2 separate regions of the Homo sapiens genome follow, and region 2 is linked to region 1. Evidence: fine-mapped expression QTL. A gene starts in region 1. The other region holds a variant in brackets. All regions are shown on one strand. Distances are between the middles of the regions. Region 1 holds the start of GALNT11 (polypeptide N-acetylgalactosaminyltransferase 11). Region 2 has its middle 20 kb from the start of GALNTL5.

Evidence for each region.
Region 2: its variant is fine-mapped to the expression of GALNT11 in neutrophils (BLUEPRINT, PIP 0.95).

What each region holds. Positions count from the first base shown.
Region 1 is chr7:152,022,059-152,030,396 of GRCh38, reverse strand. GALNT11 (polypeptide N-acetylgalactosaminyltransferase 11) reads right to left here and starts at 4,723. Exons shown (of 12, transcript NM_022087.4): 1 at 4,513-4,723. RefSeq lists silencers at 4,189-4,888, 5,739-6,033.
Region 2 is chr7:151,932,607-151,940,944 of GRCh38, reverse strand. No RefSeq gene overlaps it. Among named protein-coding and RNA genes, the nearest start is that of GALNTL5, 20 kb to the left of the region's middle. RefSeq lists enhancers at 7,472-7,521, 7,542-7,641. The variant T/C (reference allele first, on the strand shown) is at 4,765.

The DNA of each region.
Region 1 (8,338 bases):
GAAAAACCAGGCCATACAGGGATAGGAGCTGAGGGGACATAGTGAGAAGTGACCAGAAGACAAGAGTTGAGGCTTCTGTTATGCTCGGACAGGGCCACCAGAGGGCTCCTTGGTCTAGTGGTAACACCAGCGTCCCGTGATCTAGCGGTAGCATCAGTGTCAAGGAAAAACACCCGCTACTTAGCAGACCAGGAAAGGGAGTCTCCCTTTCCCCGTGGGAGTTTACAGAAGACTCTACTCCTCTACCTCTTGTCTTTTCTTTTATCTCTGTCTTGTGTCTTTATTTCTACACTCTCTCGTCTCCGCACACGGGGAAAAAACCCACCGACCCTGTGGGGCTGGACCCTACACCCTATTCCTTTAAAAGCCACAGTAAAGTTAAAACCTATAACTGATAATTGAAGGCCTTCTCTGTAACTCTGTAACACTCCAATACCACCTTGTTGTCAGTGTAAACAAGGGCGTAGCCCAAAAGCACTGAGGCCACTGACAACCCATAGCCTTCCTATCAAAAATCCTTAACCCAGCAGGTTTCCTAACAGGGGATCTAAATCTTAACTAACTACCATACAAAGGTCCGACCAGATCTAGGAGGAACTCCCTTCAGGACAGGACCATAGATGGTTCCTCCTGGGTGATTAAGGAAAAAAGACACAAGGGGTATTCAGTAAATGATAAGGGAACTGTAGAAGCAGAGTTAGGAAAACTGCCTAATAATTGGTTTGCTCAAATGTGCGAGCTGTTTGCACTCAGCCAAACCTTAAAGTACTTACAGAATCAGGAAGGAGCCATCTATATCAATTCTAAGTTAATATGGACTGAACGAGGTCTTATTAATAGCAAAGAATAATTGAAATCCCAAACTTACAAGGTTTTCAACAAAAGTAAAGTTTGCTAAAAGTTAACAGTGTAAACATATATTATTCTAACTTCTAATCTTGTGGAAATCAGACCCTATCAGTACCCCTCAAAGCTCAAGTCCGTCAGTGCAGAGCCATACAACTAATACCCCTACCTATAGGGTTAGAAATGGCCACTGCTACAGGAACTGGAATAGCCAGTTTACCTACTTCATTATCCTACTACCACACTCTCAAAGGATTTCTCAAGAGAGTTTGCAAGAAATAACAAAATCTATCCAGTAAGGATAGTAACTACAATTCCAAATAGACTCTTTGGCAGCAATGACTCTCCAAAACCACCGAGGCCTAGACCTCCTCACTGCTGAGAAAGGAGGACTCTGCACCTTCTTAGGGGAAGAGTGTTGTTTTTACACTAACCAGTCAGGGATAGTATGAGATGCCACCCAACATTTATAGGAAAAGGCTTCTGAAATCAGACGCCTTTCAAACTCTTACACCAACCTCTGGAGTTGGACAACATGGCTTCTCCCCTTTCTAGGTCCTGTGGCAGCCATCTTGCTATTACTTGCCTTCGGGCCCTGTATTTTTAACCTCCTTTTCAAATTTGTTTCCTCTAGAATTGAGACCATCAAGCTACAGATGGTCTTACAAATGGAACTCCAAATGAGCTCAACTAAACTTCTACCAGGACCCCTGGACCAACCTGCTGGCCCTTTCACTGGCCTAAAGAGTTCCCCTCTGGAGGACACTACAATTGCAGGGCCCCTTCTTCACCCCTATCCAGCAGGAAGTAGCTACAGCAGTCATTGGCCAAATTCCCAACAGCAGTTGGGGTGTCCTGTTTAGAGGGGGGGGATTGAGAGGTGAAGCTGGCTGTGCTTCTGGGTCGGGTGGGGACTTGGAGAACTACTCTGTCTAAAGGATTGTAAATGCACCAATCAGGGCTCTGTGTCTAGCTAAAGGTTTGTAAACACACCAATCAGTGCTCTGTGTCTAGCTAATCGGGTAGGGGACTTGGAGAACTTTTCAGTCTAGCTAAAGGATTGTAAATGCACCAATCAGTGCTCTGTGACTAGCTAACTGGGTAGCAGACTTGGAGAACTTTTCTGTCTAGCTAAAGGATTGTAAATGCACCAATCAGCGCTCTGTGTCTAGCTAAAGGTTTGTAAACGCACCAATCAGCACTCTGTAAAAACCGACCAATTAGCACTCTGTAAAACAGACCAATCAGCACTCTGTAAAACAGAGCAATCAGCACTCTAAAATGGACTAATCAGCTCTCTGTAAAATGGACCAATCAGCAGGATGTGGGTGGGGCCAAATAAGGGAATAAAAGCAGGCCACTGGAGCCAGCAGCGGCAACCTGCTCGGGTCCCCTTCCATGCTGTGGAAGCTTTGCTCTTTCATTCTTTGCAATAAATCTTGCTGCTGCTCACTCTTTGGGTCTGCACTAACTTTATGAGCTGTAACACTGACTGTGAAGGTCTGTGGCTTCACTCCTGAAGTCAGTGAGACCACAAACCTACTGCGAGGAACAAACAACTCTCGACATGCCACCTTTAAGACCTGTAACACTCACTGCGAAGGTCTGCAGGTTGACTCCTGAAGTCAGTGAGCTCATGAACCCACTGGGAGGAAAAAACAACTCCAGACGTGCCACCTTTAAGAGCTGTAACACTCACTGCAAAGGTCTGCGGCTTCATCCCTGAAGTCAGCAAGACCACGAACCCACCAGAAGGAAGAAACTCTGGACACATCTGAACATCAGAAGGAACAAACTCTCGACATACCATCTTTAAGAACTGTAACACTCACCGCGACAGTCCGTGGCTTCATTCTTGAAGTCAGCGAGACCAAGAATCCACTGGAAGGAACCAATTCCGGACACATTTACGCAGCAGCCACGTCAGACTGGGACACTTCCTGCTTACAGAGGACTATAAAACCCCTTCCTCACTTGGGGCTGATGCTATTATAAAACCCATTCCTCACTTGGGGCTGATGCCATTTAGGCATAAACCCGTCTGCACCCAGGCGCTTATTAAAACAGCATGTTGCTCCACACCGCCTCATGTCGTGGGGGTTGTTGGTGCGTCATCGGGGTTCAAACCAATACAAGAGCCTTGCAGGTTGTTTGTAGCACTAACAAAGGATAAATGCTTGAGAAGATGGATACCCTGCTTATCCTGATGTGATTATGCATTCTATGCCATATCAAATATCTCATGTACCTATAAATACATATGCCTACTATGTACCCACAAAAATTAAAAATAAATTTTTTTGAGATGGAGTCTCGCTCTGTCACCCAGGATGGAGTGCAGTGGCGTGATCTCGGCTCACTGCAAGCTCTGCCTCCTCGATTCACGCCATTCTCCTGCCTCAGCCTCCCAAGTAGCTGGGATTACAGGCGCCTGCCACCACGCCCGGCTTATTTTTTGTATTTTTAGTAGAGACGGGATTTCACCGTGTTAGCCAGGATGGTCTTGATCTCCTGACCTCGTGATCCGCTCGCCTTGGCCTTCCAAAGTGCTGGGATTACAGGCGTGAGCCACCGCACCCGGCTAATAAAAAAATTTTTAAAGAGATTTATTCTGAGCGAAATGAGTGTCTATGGCCCATGACACTGCCCTCAAGAGATCCTGAGAGCATGTACCCAAGGTGGTGGGGGCACAGCCTAGTTTTATACATTGTAGGGGAACATGAGTCTTCAATCAAATACAGGTATAGACTAGTTCGGGCAGGAAAGGTGGGACAACTCAAAGTGGCGGCTTCCAGGTCATGGGTAAGATGAGAGACAAACGGCTACATTCTTTTGAGCCTCTGCTCTGCCTTTTACTGAACACACAATTTACGCCATGGGGCAGGCAGAGGAATAGCCACTTGTGCCTTAGTCTGGCTCAGTGAATCTGCATTTTTACATAAATACAGGGCAGAGGAAGCCGTCAGACATGCATCTGTCTCAGGTGAGCAGAAGGATGACTTGAGTTCTGTCCCTGTTCCTCACCTGCGAAGACAAGCTGTCAATTTACACTGCCAGGGTGCAATTCCACACAACTGTTTCAGGGTAAAGATGTGGAGGTCCACAGCGAATTTCCTCCTGGCCAAAGGGTGAGGGAGCTGTGTGGCTTTTTATCTTTGCAGCTGTCTTAGGAACAAAACTTAGGGGCAGGTTTGCCTGACGCAGCTCCCAGCTTGACTTTGGCTTAGTGATTTGGGGTCCCGAGATTAAATTTCCTTCCACACTATTCTCCCTAGTTTTGTGTATGTGTGAACTATTCTATTTCTGGGCACTTTTAATTTTAAAAAGTGGACAATACTGATCTGGACTTCATTTTAGGAAATGCTGGGGGAGGCTGCAGGATCAGGTGTGCCTCCGTCCTAAATACGCGAAAACGAGGCCAGCGCCCTGGTCCTCGCCCCCACGCCCGCGAACAAGCCTCAGGAGACGCTGGGGGAGGCGCGGGGGCAGCGGCGTCTCCCGGAGACACGAGCCTCGCCCAGGGGGCGTGCGGGAGCCCAGGACCCGCGGGGAGCCAGGCGCTGCCCCGCCGCCGCCCCCAGCCTGCCCAGGCCCCGCGCGCCGCCGCCGCCGCAGCTCTCGAGGTGCTGAGGGACGCCGGGAGGCCGCCGCCTAGAGGGTACTCACCGCCTTGCCCGCAGCCCAGGATCGCCGCCTTCTGGGACTCGGGCTGCGGCATCTTCTCTCCCGCCACAGCCCCAGTCCGACCCGCAGGAGCGGCGCGGGCTGAACTGCCCCGGGGCCCAGCAGCCAGGCGTCGCGCAGGCGCTGGGCGCAGTGGCGGCCGCGCCTCCTCAGGCCCAGGGCCCTCGCCCAGTCCCCGAGCCGCTGCCTCCGCCCAGCGCCGCGCGTCCGCCGGCGCCGCGTGACAGGCGGCCCCGCCCCCGCGCCGCGGTGACGAAACCTCTCGCTGCCCTGACGTCACCGGCCGCCGCGCGCTGAGTCCTCCCTAGCGTTCGCGCAGAGGCGCCGCGCGTGGCCTGGCTCCTGTTGTCTGTCACCCGCGGTCTCAAAAGACCCCATTAATGACAAATGCCCTGCCTGTGGCCCCGGCTACTCCGGAGGCTGAGGCGGGAGCAGCGCTTGAGCCCGGGAGCTCTGCGCTGTATGCGCTGTGCCCATTGCGCGGCGACACGCATCTGTGTTCCGCATCGGTGTGGTGACCTCCCGGGAGCAGGGACCACCAGGTTCCCCAAGGAGTGGGGAACTGGCCCAGCTCGGAAACCGGGCAGGGCAAAACTCCTGTGCTGATCGGTAGCGGGATCGCGCCTGTGAATAGCCACTGCCCTCCAGCCTGGGCAATACAGCGAGACCCCATAAGTGAAAAAAAAAAAAAAAGACAAATGCCCTTAAACATATTAAAAGAAGTTAAACGCCACTTGTGATAGAAGAAAATGTAGATTAAGGTGTAAAGAGAGAAGTGGTGAAAAAAACACTCATACCTTGGTGATAATAGTGCAATGTATACAAATACCATAAAAGGGGAATTGGCAATTTTTAAGAAAAATGGTGTGGGCATTCATCTTTGGCCAATAATGCCAAGTTATATTGAAGAATATCTTAATACTAATCTTCTTTGCATTTCTGAAATAAATCCCACTTGGTTAAGAATATTTTTGAACTTTTTTAAAGAACTCATTGCTTCACAATTAAAGTCTGATGGGGTACACGCGTAGCAATGGAGGAACTTCTACAGCTACTATAAATTAAAGAGCACCACCTGAACCAAAGTAGTGGCCTTCTTGAGCTGAACTGAGCTAACCACATTCCCCAGCCCCTCTTCCACAGATACCCCATGGGGTTGTCAGGGTGTAGGGGATGCCATGTTGTACCACCCAGGTTTCCCCTTAAGGACTGAGGACTCATTTCTCCAGTTGTTGGGTGTGTAGGCCGCTGATGGCCCCCAGCTGAGTCTTGTGGCCACTTCCCTCAGCCAAAGAGAACTGCTGCTGGGTGCCAAGTTGAATGCTTTTGACTCCTTCTACCATGCTTGTGTCTTGATTGGAGATTGACAGATATTTCAGGTACTGGTTTCTCTTGCAAGGGCAGTGCAGACAGCACACAGGTATCTTTGCCCAGTTTCCTTCAATGGTTGCAGCTCATGTAAAATATACATAGTATAATATCAAATAAGCGTCATTGGGGATCAATCCTGCTGGGATCCCCCTCAGAAACTATTCACAGCAGTGGCAGGCAAACTAGGGCAAAGTCTACTAGGTATATTTAAAAGTGTATTACAAGTTTATTTAAATACATAAATATGTTTCCAGAAAGTAATCCTTCCAACTACCTAAACTAGTAATGAAAAATGTTAAATATCACCTTAAATATGTATAAGGGGATACTAAGTTCTTGTATTTAAACCTTATTATTTTAGTATATACTCAAGCAAAAGAGTTTGAAGACCAGACCTTTAGGGCCTCACTACTCAAATGGTGGTCCAGCAACAAGCGACACCAACGTCACCTGGAGTGTGTTAGAAATGGGGAGTCTTGTGCTCCACCTACTTAATTAAAATCTGCATTTTTACCAAGATTTCCAGGTGATTTATACACAAATTAACATTTGAAATCATGCTCTAGGATTAATCAGGGCATGTAAATTTCCATTGTTTCATCTTCTCCTGACCCTTGATAGTATCAGATATTTAAATATTTGCCAACCTGATGAGTATGAGATGCATCTGTTTATTACTTTAAATACTATTCTACCTGATTAATGTGCAATAATTACTTAACCATTATTCTCGTAATTGAGGATTTGGGTTAGCTCCAATTTTTCACTATCATACAGAATGACACTAAAATGCTCTTTTCAGCGTATCATTCTGGTTAAACACAATCTTTGAGGCCACGCTGATTAGGATCATGTAAGGGCCGTGTTATTGTTTGTCCTTGGATACAGTTGCCAGATGAAATACAGGATGGCCTGAAATTTGAATTCCAGATTAAGAATAATTTTGTGGTTTAAGTATATCCTGTGCAATATGTGAGAGGCTTGTCTTCATCTGTGCTGCCATAATAAAATACCTGAGACTAGGTAGTTTAAAAACAAATTTGTTTTCCCACTCTCCTGGAGGCTGGGAAGTACAAGATCCAGCAGCCGTATCTGGTAGGCTGCTGGTGAGGGCTTTGTGCTACATCATAACGTGGCAGAGAATCGGAAGAGGAAGCGCGCACTGGCTAAAGGGGCAATGTTACTTATTAACAACCCGCTCTCAAGGTACCTAATCCAGTCTCAAGAGACTGGGAACTCTCAGTGACTGCGTTAATCTTTTCATGGGGGGCTGGTCCCTCATGGCTCAAATGCCTCTTAAAGGTCCTACTCTGTCTCAACACTGTTACCCTGGGGTCCAAGCCTCAACATGAATTTTGGTGGGGATAAAAGGTATTCAAACTGTAGTGCTGTTGCTTTGTCAGTTGTTTCAACATGAATTATGGAAGACACATTCAGAATGTAGCCATATGTACAGTAAAATGTTATTGTCTATTTGAAATTCAAGTTTAACCAGGCATCCTGTATTTTTATTAGCCAAATAGGGCAACGTTAACCTGGGCACATTCTAACCATCGTTTTCTCATCTATGAAATGAGGATAGCAGTAGAACTCATAAAGTTGTTGTATGAATGAAAGGAGATAATCCATGCAGACTACTTATAACAGAGTATGAAACGTAGTAAAAGCTCAGCAAATGTCAGCTCTTCTTAGTTGTTGTTTCATACAGGTGTGTCTTGGGATAAATTCCTAGAAGGATGTTTTAGTTACAGAACTCCTGGGCTTAATTTCAGACTTGTTTGAGCATTCCATCATACCAAAAACTGTTTTGTAAGAAACCCTAAGCAGGTTACCAGATACTTTTCAACTAGCTTCAAAATACAAATCAGATTTTTAAATTTCCACACAAAAACAAAAAATTGCCATCTATAGGCAAGTATCAATTTCCCTTTAATCACACCAAATATTTGGATATTGATTCTGATTTCTTTTCTATTTTAGGGTCAACTGAAGCAATATTTAAGAAGATACTGTCCAAGGGACATGCTGAACAATTTCTAGGACTTATCTGTGTTATCTAGTACCTAAACTAAATTACATTACAAAACTAAGACTTAATATTAGGCCCACGGCTTTTAACAAAAGAGAACACTCCTGTCTTTTGCTTTTGGGAAAGCTGATATTTACAGCATCCATTCTTTATGCTTACCAGAAAAAAAATATACTTTTTAATGTTACATATATATCATTTATATATTACATATAATAATTATATATAACATATATATATTCTCAAATTTCAACTAGAAAAAAACTGTTACTTTAAGAAGATACTCCATATTTATACTACTATAATTCTCTTTTATTTTTTCAGCTACAAGATTTCTATTTTGCTTTTTGTTTGTTTGTTTTTTGAGACAGTCTCTGTCACCCAGGCTGGAGTGCAGTGGTGTGATCT
Region 2 (8,338 bases), 89 kb after region 1:
CCAAGAACCTGGACACCCTCCCCCAGTAACAAAATTATATTAAAAATCCAAGAGCAGAGCTGAGAAACACTGAAGTGGCCCAGGACTGGTGGCCGCTCTCCCAGCATCTCTTGAGTCTCCTCTCTGGGGCCCTGGCTTTCACCTCCCACAGCCCCCACTGGATGCTCCAGCGTGTGCCCACGCCCAGCGCCCCCCACTCCGCCCTGCACCCTCCCGGGCCCTCTTGCTCTGGCTCTCCCTCTTATCTTTCTTCCCTTCTAACTCACTAATCTAATTTTCAATTTGCCAAACAGATTCCCAATAAAAAAATCTTTCTGAGCTAGACAAGACAACTCCTCTGTTGCTGGCAGCCTCATCCATGGGCTGTCCTGAGTCCAGCTCCAGTACTTGGTCCAGGCTGCTCTGGCAGGGACCCAGCCATGAACGGATGCAAAGGAACATGGTTTTCATCTGCGCTTCTCTGATTTCGGATGAAGCTAAGCTTCTCTTCTTGTTTGGTGCTCTTTGGGGTGTCTTCTTCTATGAATTGCCTATCTACATCTTATCCCTTTTTCCACTTTCTGTCTTTTTCCTCTTGATTTGCATGAGTTCCTTGAATTTTCTAGGCACTAGTCCCTTGTCAGCTTTGGATATTGCAAGCGTGTTCTCCCATTCTGTCCTCTGTCTACAGGGATACCTCAGAGATGTTGTGGGTTCAGTCCAGATTACTGCAATAAGGCAAATATTGCAATAAAGTGAGTCACACATTTTTGTGGTTTCCCAGTGCATATAAAAGTTATGTTTCTATACTGTAGTCCATTTAGTGTGCAATAGCATTATGTATAAAATGTACTGTATTAATTAAAAATACTTTATTGCTAAACAATGGTAACAATTATCTGAGCCTTCATGGAGTTGTAATCTTCCTTTGGTGGAGGGTTTTGCCTCGATGTTGGTGGCTGCTGACTGATCAGGGTGGTGGTTCCTGAAGGTTGGGGTGGCTGTGGAATTTCTTAAAATAAGACAGTAATGAAGTTTGCTGTATCCATCGACTCTTCTTTTTTAATTTTTTTCTACCCCTGCCCTTCCCCTGACTCTTCCTTTCACAAAAAGATTTTTCTGTAGCATGTGATGCTGTTTGATAGAATTTTACCCAGAGTAGAACTTCTTTGAAAATTGGAGTCAGTCCTTTCAGACCTTGCCACTGCTTTGTCAGCTAAGCTTATGTAATATTCTAAATGCTTTGTTGTCGTTTTAACAGTGTTCATAGCTTCTTCATCAAGAGTAGTTTCCATGTCAAGAAACCACGTTCTTTGCTCATCCAAAAGAAGCAACTCCTCATCCTTTCAAGTTTGATCATGAAATTGCAGTTCAGTCCCATCTTCTATTTCTCTTGCATTTCCACCACATCTGCAGTGACTTCCTCCACTAAAGTCTTCAACCCCTCAAGGTCATCCATGAAGACTGGAATCAACTTCTTCCAAACTCCTCTTAATGTTATTATTTTGATCTCCTCCCATGAATCACGAATGTTTCTAATGGCATTTAGAATGGTGAATCCTTTCCAGACGTTTTCAATTTTCCTTGCCCAGATCCATCAGAGGAATCACTATCTATGGCAGTTATAGCCTTATTAAATCTATTTCTTAAATAATAAGACTTGAAAGTAGAAATTAGTCCTTGATCCATGGGCAGAGAATGGTGATCGTGTTAGCAGGCAGGGACACGACATTTATCTCCTAGCACATCTCCCTCAGAGCTTATAGGTGACCAAGTGCATTGTCAATGAGCAGTAATATTTTGAAAGGAATCTTTTCTTCTGAGCAGTAGGTCTCAACGGCGGGCTTAAAATATTCAGTAAACCATGCTGTAAGCAGTTGTGTAGTCATTCAGGCTTTGTTGTTCCATTTCTAGAGCACAGGCAGAATAGATTCAGCATAATTCTTAAGGACGCTAAGATTTTCAGAATGGCAAGTGAGCACTGGCTTCAGCTTAAAGACACCAGCTGCATCAGCCCCTAGCAAGAGAGTCAGCCTATCCTTTGAAGCTTTGAAGCCAGACATTGATGTCTTCTCTCTAGCTATGAAAAGTCTTAGATGGCATCTTCTTCCAATAGAAGACTGTTTAGTCTACATTGAAAATTTGTTGTTTAGTGCTCCTGTCTTCATCAATGATCTTAATTAACTAGATCTTCTGGAAAACTTGTTGCAGCTTCTCCATCAACACTTGTTGCTTCATCTTACACTTTTTTATGGAGCTGGCTTCGCTCTTTAAATCTCATGAACCAATGAGGTTCAAAAGCTTCAAACTTCCTTCTGCAGCTTCCTCACCTCTCTCAGCCTTCAGAGTGGAAGAGAGTTAGGACCTTTCTCTGGATTCGGCTTTGGCCTAAGAGAATGCTGTGGCTGCTTTGATCTTCTATCCAGACCACTCAAACTTTCTCTGTATCAGCAATAAGGCAGTCTCACTTTCTTATCATTTGTGTGTTCCCTGGAGTAGCAGTTTTAATTTCCTTTAAGTACTTTTTTTTTGAGATGGAGTCTTGCTCTGTTACCCAGGCTGTAGTGCAGTGGCATGATCTTAGTTCACTGCGGCCTCCACCTGCCAGGTTCAAGTGATTCTTCTGCCTCAGCCTCCCAAGTAGCTGGGATTACAGGTGCACACCATGCACACCACCACGCCCGGCTAATTTTTGTATTTTTAGTAGAGATGGGGTTTCATCATGTTGGCCAGGCTGGTCTTGAACTCCTGACCTCAAGTAAGCCGCCCGCCTCAGCCTCCCAAAATGCTGGGATTACAGGCGTGAGCCACCGTGCCTGGCCAAGAACATTTTCTTTGCACTCACAATTTGGTTAACTGTTTGGCACAAGATGCCTAGCTTGGGGCCTATCTCAGCTTTCGACATGCCTTCCTCACTTAGCTTAATTACTTCTACCTTTTGATTTAAAGTCAGAGGCCTGTGACTCTCCTTTTCACTTGAACACTTAGAGGCCATTGCAGGGTTATTAATTGTCCTAATTTCAATCCCCAGGGAACAGGGATGCACAAGATGAGGGAGACAGACAGAGGAATGGCCAGCTGGTGGACCAATTAGAACACATACAACATTTATCAATTAAGTTCACTGTCTTATATGGGACCCCCAAAACAACTACAGTAGTAACATCAAAGACCACTGATCACAGATCATCACAATGATATAATAATGAAAAAGTTTTAGATACTGCAAGAATTACCAAAATATGACACAGAGACATAAACTGAGCATGTGCTGTTGGAAAAATGACACCAACAGACTTGCTCAAAGCAGGGCTGCCACAAACCTTCTATTTGTAAGAAATGCAACATCTGGGAAGTGCCATAAAGCCAAGCATGTTGAATAAAAGCCTGAATTAACTTTGTCAGTGGGCCACTAGTTGACCAGAAATTTTTCATTCTGATGTACTAAAAATCATCTTCCTTTTTTTTTTTGCTTACAGCTTGTGTTTTGAAATTTTAAGAGGTCCTTCCCCACCCTTGGATCGCAAGGAAGTGTGTCATCACCATATTCTGTTAACTTATCATTTTACTGTTCATATTCGGTATTGGCTTCATTTTGAATAGTCCTATGTATGTGATGTTGGTTTTTTACCCCTGCAGACACTGAAATGACTTCTAAATATCCACAAGTAACTCGTCCTTTCCCCACTGATTCCTGGGCTGTCTTTATCATGTAATGATTCCCATGTAATATAGTCTCTCTCTGGGCTCCCTCTCCTGTTCCCCTGGTCTGTGTGTCTGTCCTTGGTTTTGTGTTGTATCTTAATTCCTAGTTGAGCAAGTTTGACTTAGCATTTCATGGATTTTTATACTTCCATAAAAAATTTAAATCAGGGCCAGGCGCAGTGGCTCATGCCTATAATCCCAGCACTTTGCGAGGCTGAGGCGGGCGGACCACTTGAGGTCAGGAGTTCGAGACCAGCCTAGCCAACATGGCGAAACCCCGTCTCTACTAAAAATACAAAAATAAGCTGAGCTTGGTGGCACATGTCTGTAGTTCCAGTTACTTAGGAGGCTGAGGCAGGAGAATCACTTGAACCTGGGAAGCAGAAGTTGCAGTGAGCTGAGATCACACCACTGCCCTCCAGCCTGGGTGACAGAGTGAGACTGTCTCAAAAAAAACCCCAAAAAACAAAAAACAATTAAGTCAGGTTTTCAAAGTCCTTAATAGGATGGTTGAAATTCTGATGGGAAATCTGAGTAGCATAAAGGCATTCTAAGTGGGGAAATGATAGGCGTGAAGGTAGGAAAAATGAGTAAGTCAAGGTTAAGGCACGTGACCCATTTTTGATGAAGCTAAAGGTATCGAGGTATCTTAACATCACCAAGTTCTTTCTCTTTTCACAGTTTAACAAAGTTAAGATCAAGGTATCAGTTATACTTTTATTGTATAAAAGCACATAAGATGACCTATATCCTTTACTCATGCCAAGAAAACTACCTGCTTTACCCACTCTGCTCTTGATGCGCTGTTTAAAAAGCAGTTTCACTTCCATAGCAACACATTCGTTTCCTTTCCACTTCCTGTAATACTTGCTAACTTTCACTTCTGGTTTGTTTTGACTCCTCTATTTTGGAAGTCATTTCGTTTTCAAGTAAAGTAAACATGAACAACTCTAAAATACAACTTATACCTCTGTGTCTTAGTCGAAACAATACAAACACCCTAGCACTTTTCATCTTTAATTCAACTAGACGTTCACTACCAGATGGCATACTAGGCCCGTTGAGTTTTGCATTACTTAG[T/C]TCCTTAAAAATAAAAGGAGAGAGGCTGGGGCCGGTAGCTCATGCCTGTAATCCCAGCATTTTGGGAGGCTGAGGCGGGTGGATCACTTGAGGTCAGGAGTTCGAGACCAGCCTGGTCAACATGGCAAAACCCCATCTCTACTAAAAATACAAAAATTAGCTGGACGTGGTGGCACATGCCTGTAATCCAGCTACTTGGGAGGCTGAGGCACGAGAATTGCTTGAACCCGGGAAGCAGAAGTTGCAGTGAGCCGAGATCATGTCACTGAACTCCAGCCTGGGCGACAGAGCGAGACTCCATCTCAAAAACAAACAAACACACACACACACACACACACACACACACACACACACACACACACAACAGGGAGAAATAAAAGCAAAGTGCTCAGGTCAGGCTCTGGTCAAACCAGGGCAAAACAGACAGCTCCCCAGGGAGCTCAGGAGGAATTCCCAGCTCCTGCAGGGCTGAGCAGAGAGACCAGCTGGAGAATACACTTCCTTTTCCCTCTTCTTGTCTTCCACCTGGCCCTTATTTCCATTTCTGCTTTGTCTCCAGGCAGGTGCACACTCCACCTTTTCTCATTGATGTGATGGTCCCCACTCCTCTGTCCTGCCAGATTTAGGTCAGCTGTTCTGAGCACACGGCAAAGCAGCTTTAGACTCCTGCACTGTCGAAAAACACTCGCTGAGCCTGAGTAATTGCAAGGAAAACGGATGCATGCTGTCAGATCCTCCACTGCTATTTTCTCACACTGAAGTCTATTTTTCTTAGGTATCTAGATACCTTTAATTTCCATTTCTCTCACTCCTTTCTTGCCATCTGTTCATTTTATTATTGTTCCTTATTTATACATTAACATTAAATATACTCTTTTGAACGTATAATAATGACTTTCATAATTAAAACATTTAAATGGCTTATTCCTTCTTTCTTCGAACTATTTTTATCTACTTATTTATTTTGAGATGGAGTTTTACTCTGTTGCCCAGGCTGGAGTGCTGTGGTGCGATCTTCGCTCACTGCAACCTCTGCATCCTGGGTTCAAGTGATTCTCATGCCTCAGCATCCCAAGTCGCGGGATTACAGGCATGTGCCACCATGCCCAGCTAATTTTTGTATTTTTAGTAGAGACAGAGTTTTGCCATGTTGGCCAGGCTGGTCTCGAACTCCTGACCTCAGGTGATCTGCCTGCCTCAGCCTCCCAAAGTGCCGGGATTACAGGCATGAGCCACCGCACCCAGCCTCTTTCTTCTGATCTTCGTTCTCAGCTCTCACCAAACTGGCTTAGAGACTTCACTAGGAAGATGTGTCCTCCGCCATCCCAGAATTCTACAGGTAAGTCTTTCACCATCTTTATAGCCCAGTGGTCAAATAGCAGCTCGGGATCAGACAGGTGAGGCTGCATCAGTTTCACTTCCGCTCTGCAGTTCATTATCTGTGTGGCCTTGGGCAGCGTCCGGGACTTCTCTGATTTCCTGTAAACCAGGCTTGCTAATGCTGCCCCCATAAGATTGTTGTCATTTTAAAACAAGAAAATTCAGGCAATTCGTGTAACCTGGTGCTTGGCACATGGTGAAGGCTCGATTAATGGTGGCTACTGCTCCTTCCACCTGGCTGCCCACTGGGAGGACAGATGACAGGAAAGGAAAGAGCTCTGCTGACGGTCGGAAGGTAACGTAGTACCATCCTCTATGAGCAGTAAAGCTGAAGAAGCCCAGTATAATGAGCCAGCACTCCCCTTTTAGGATATTCTAGAAAAGTTCCCATATACAGACAAGGAGGCAAGGCCAAGTGTGTTCACCACAGCATTGTTTGTTATGAGGAAAAATGGAAATAACCTAAATGTCCCAGAATAAGAGAACTGGTAAATATGTTGTGATATTTATACAACCAATAGCATACAGAAGAGGAAAATGAATGAAACAGAAACACAAGGAAAAACTTCAAAAGTATAATATTGTGGGAGAAAAACAGATTGCAGAATAATACATGCAGTGTGACAGTAACTTCTTATAAAATTTCAAACATATAAAACAGCAGTGTGCATTGTATTGGCACACATACATGTAGAGAAGTATAAACATATGTATGGGAGTAATACAGATAAATTCAGAACCATGATTACTTTAGGGAGAGGATATATTTAGGGACCCTCAACTGTATCTATTTTACCTTTTTAAAGGATCTGAAGTAAATGTGGGGCAAAATGTTAAGATCTGATAAAGCTGGTTTGTGGGTGCATGGGTATTTTTATATTATTCTCTATATACATTTAAAAAGTCTGTAATATTTCATAACAAAAAAACTAATGGTCTTACATGTTGAAATAGTACTCACAGAAATTAATTCCTTATAACCTATAACATTCTTCATTGTATCTATTAAATATGATTGGTTTTGGCGGGGGGGCGGGGGGGCCGTGGTTCACACCTGTAATCCCAGCACTTTGGGAGGCCGAGGCAGGTGGAGTCAGGAGTTTGAGACCAGCCTGACCAACATGGTGAAACCCTGTCTCTACTAAAAATACAAAAATCAGCTGGGTGTGGTAGTGGGCGCCTGTAATCCCAGCTACTCAGGAGGCTGAGGCCGGAGAATCACTTGAACCCAGGAAGCGGAGGCTGCAGTGAGCCGAGATCACACCACTGCACTCCAGCCTGGGCAACAGAGCAAGCCTCTGTTAAAAAAAAAAAAAAAGACTGGTGTCTTTTATTTCATAGATGGTCCACAAGAGGGAGATCTAGAATAATTATGTGTAAGGAGAACAGCCTCCTAGGGCTTGTCGGGAGTGCTATGGAAACCAGGTGTCATCGGACAGTCCTACCGCCCTCTGGCAGGAGAGGCGATGCCCCTACCCCTTGTTCCCAAACCTACACAACAACTCCTTACGGCAAAGAGGACACATCACAGGGCGCAGTGACAATCTGAACCGTGTTGTGTTTTCTTGTTTTGTTTTGTTTGAGACGGAGTCTCGCTCTGTCGCCAGGCTGGAGTGCAGTGGCGCGATCTTGGCTCAGTGGAACCTCCGCCTCCCGGGTTCACGCCATTCTCCTGCCTCAGCCTCCCGAGTAGCTGGGATTACAGGCGCCCGCCACCACGCCCGGCTAATTTTTATATTTTTAGTAGAGACGGGGTTTCACCATGTTAGCCAGGATGGTCTCGATCTCTTGACCTTGTGATCCGCCCGTCTCTGCCTCCCAAAGTGCTGGGATTACAGGCGTGAGCCACCGCACCCGGCCTGAACAGTGTTTTAAAAAACACAATGTAACAAATTGTTGGCAGAGTAAGTAACACCCAGCAGCTAGAGGAAGGGAGTTGAGAGTGCAGGCAAACAGGCGCGACCCACGGGTGTCCCTGGCACCTATGGCGGGTGCTCCCTCCATTCCTTTGGGACGCTTCCTAAGGCGCTGTTTTTCTTGTTATTCTGTACACTTGATTCCCTCGAATTCTCAGGAAAATGCTGCCAGCGGCCAATTCACCAGTAAAGAGCTTTTATTACACAATCATATAATAAATATGACCTCAGAGCTGGCTTTTATCCAGGCTAATGCCCACAGAGAGGGGACCGTGTTC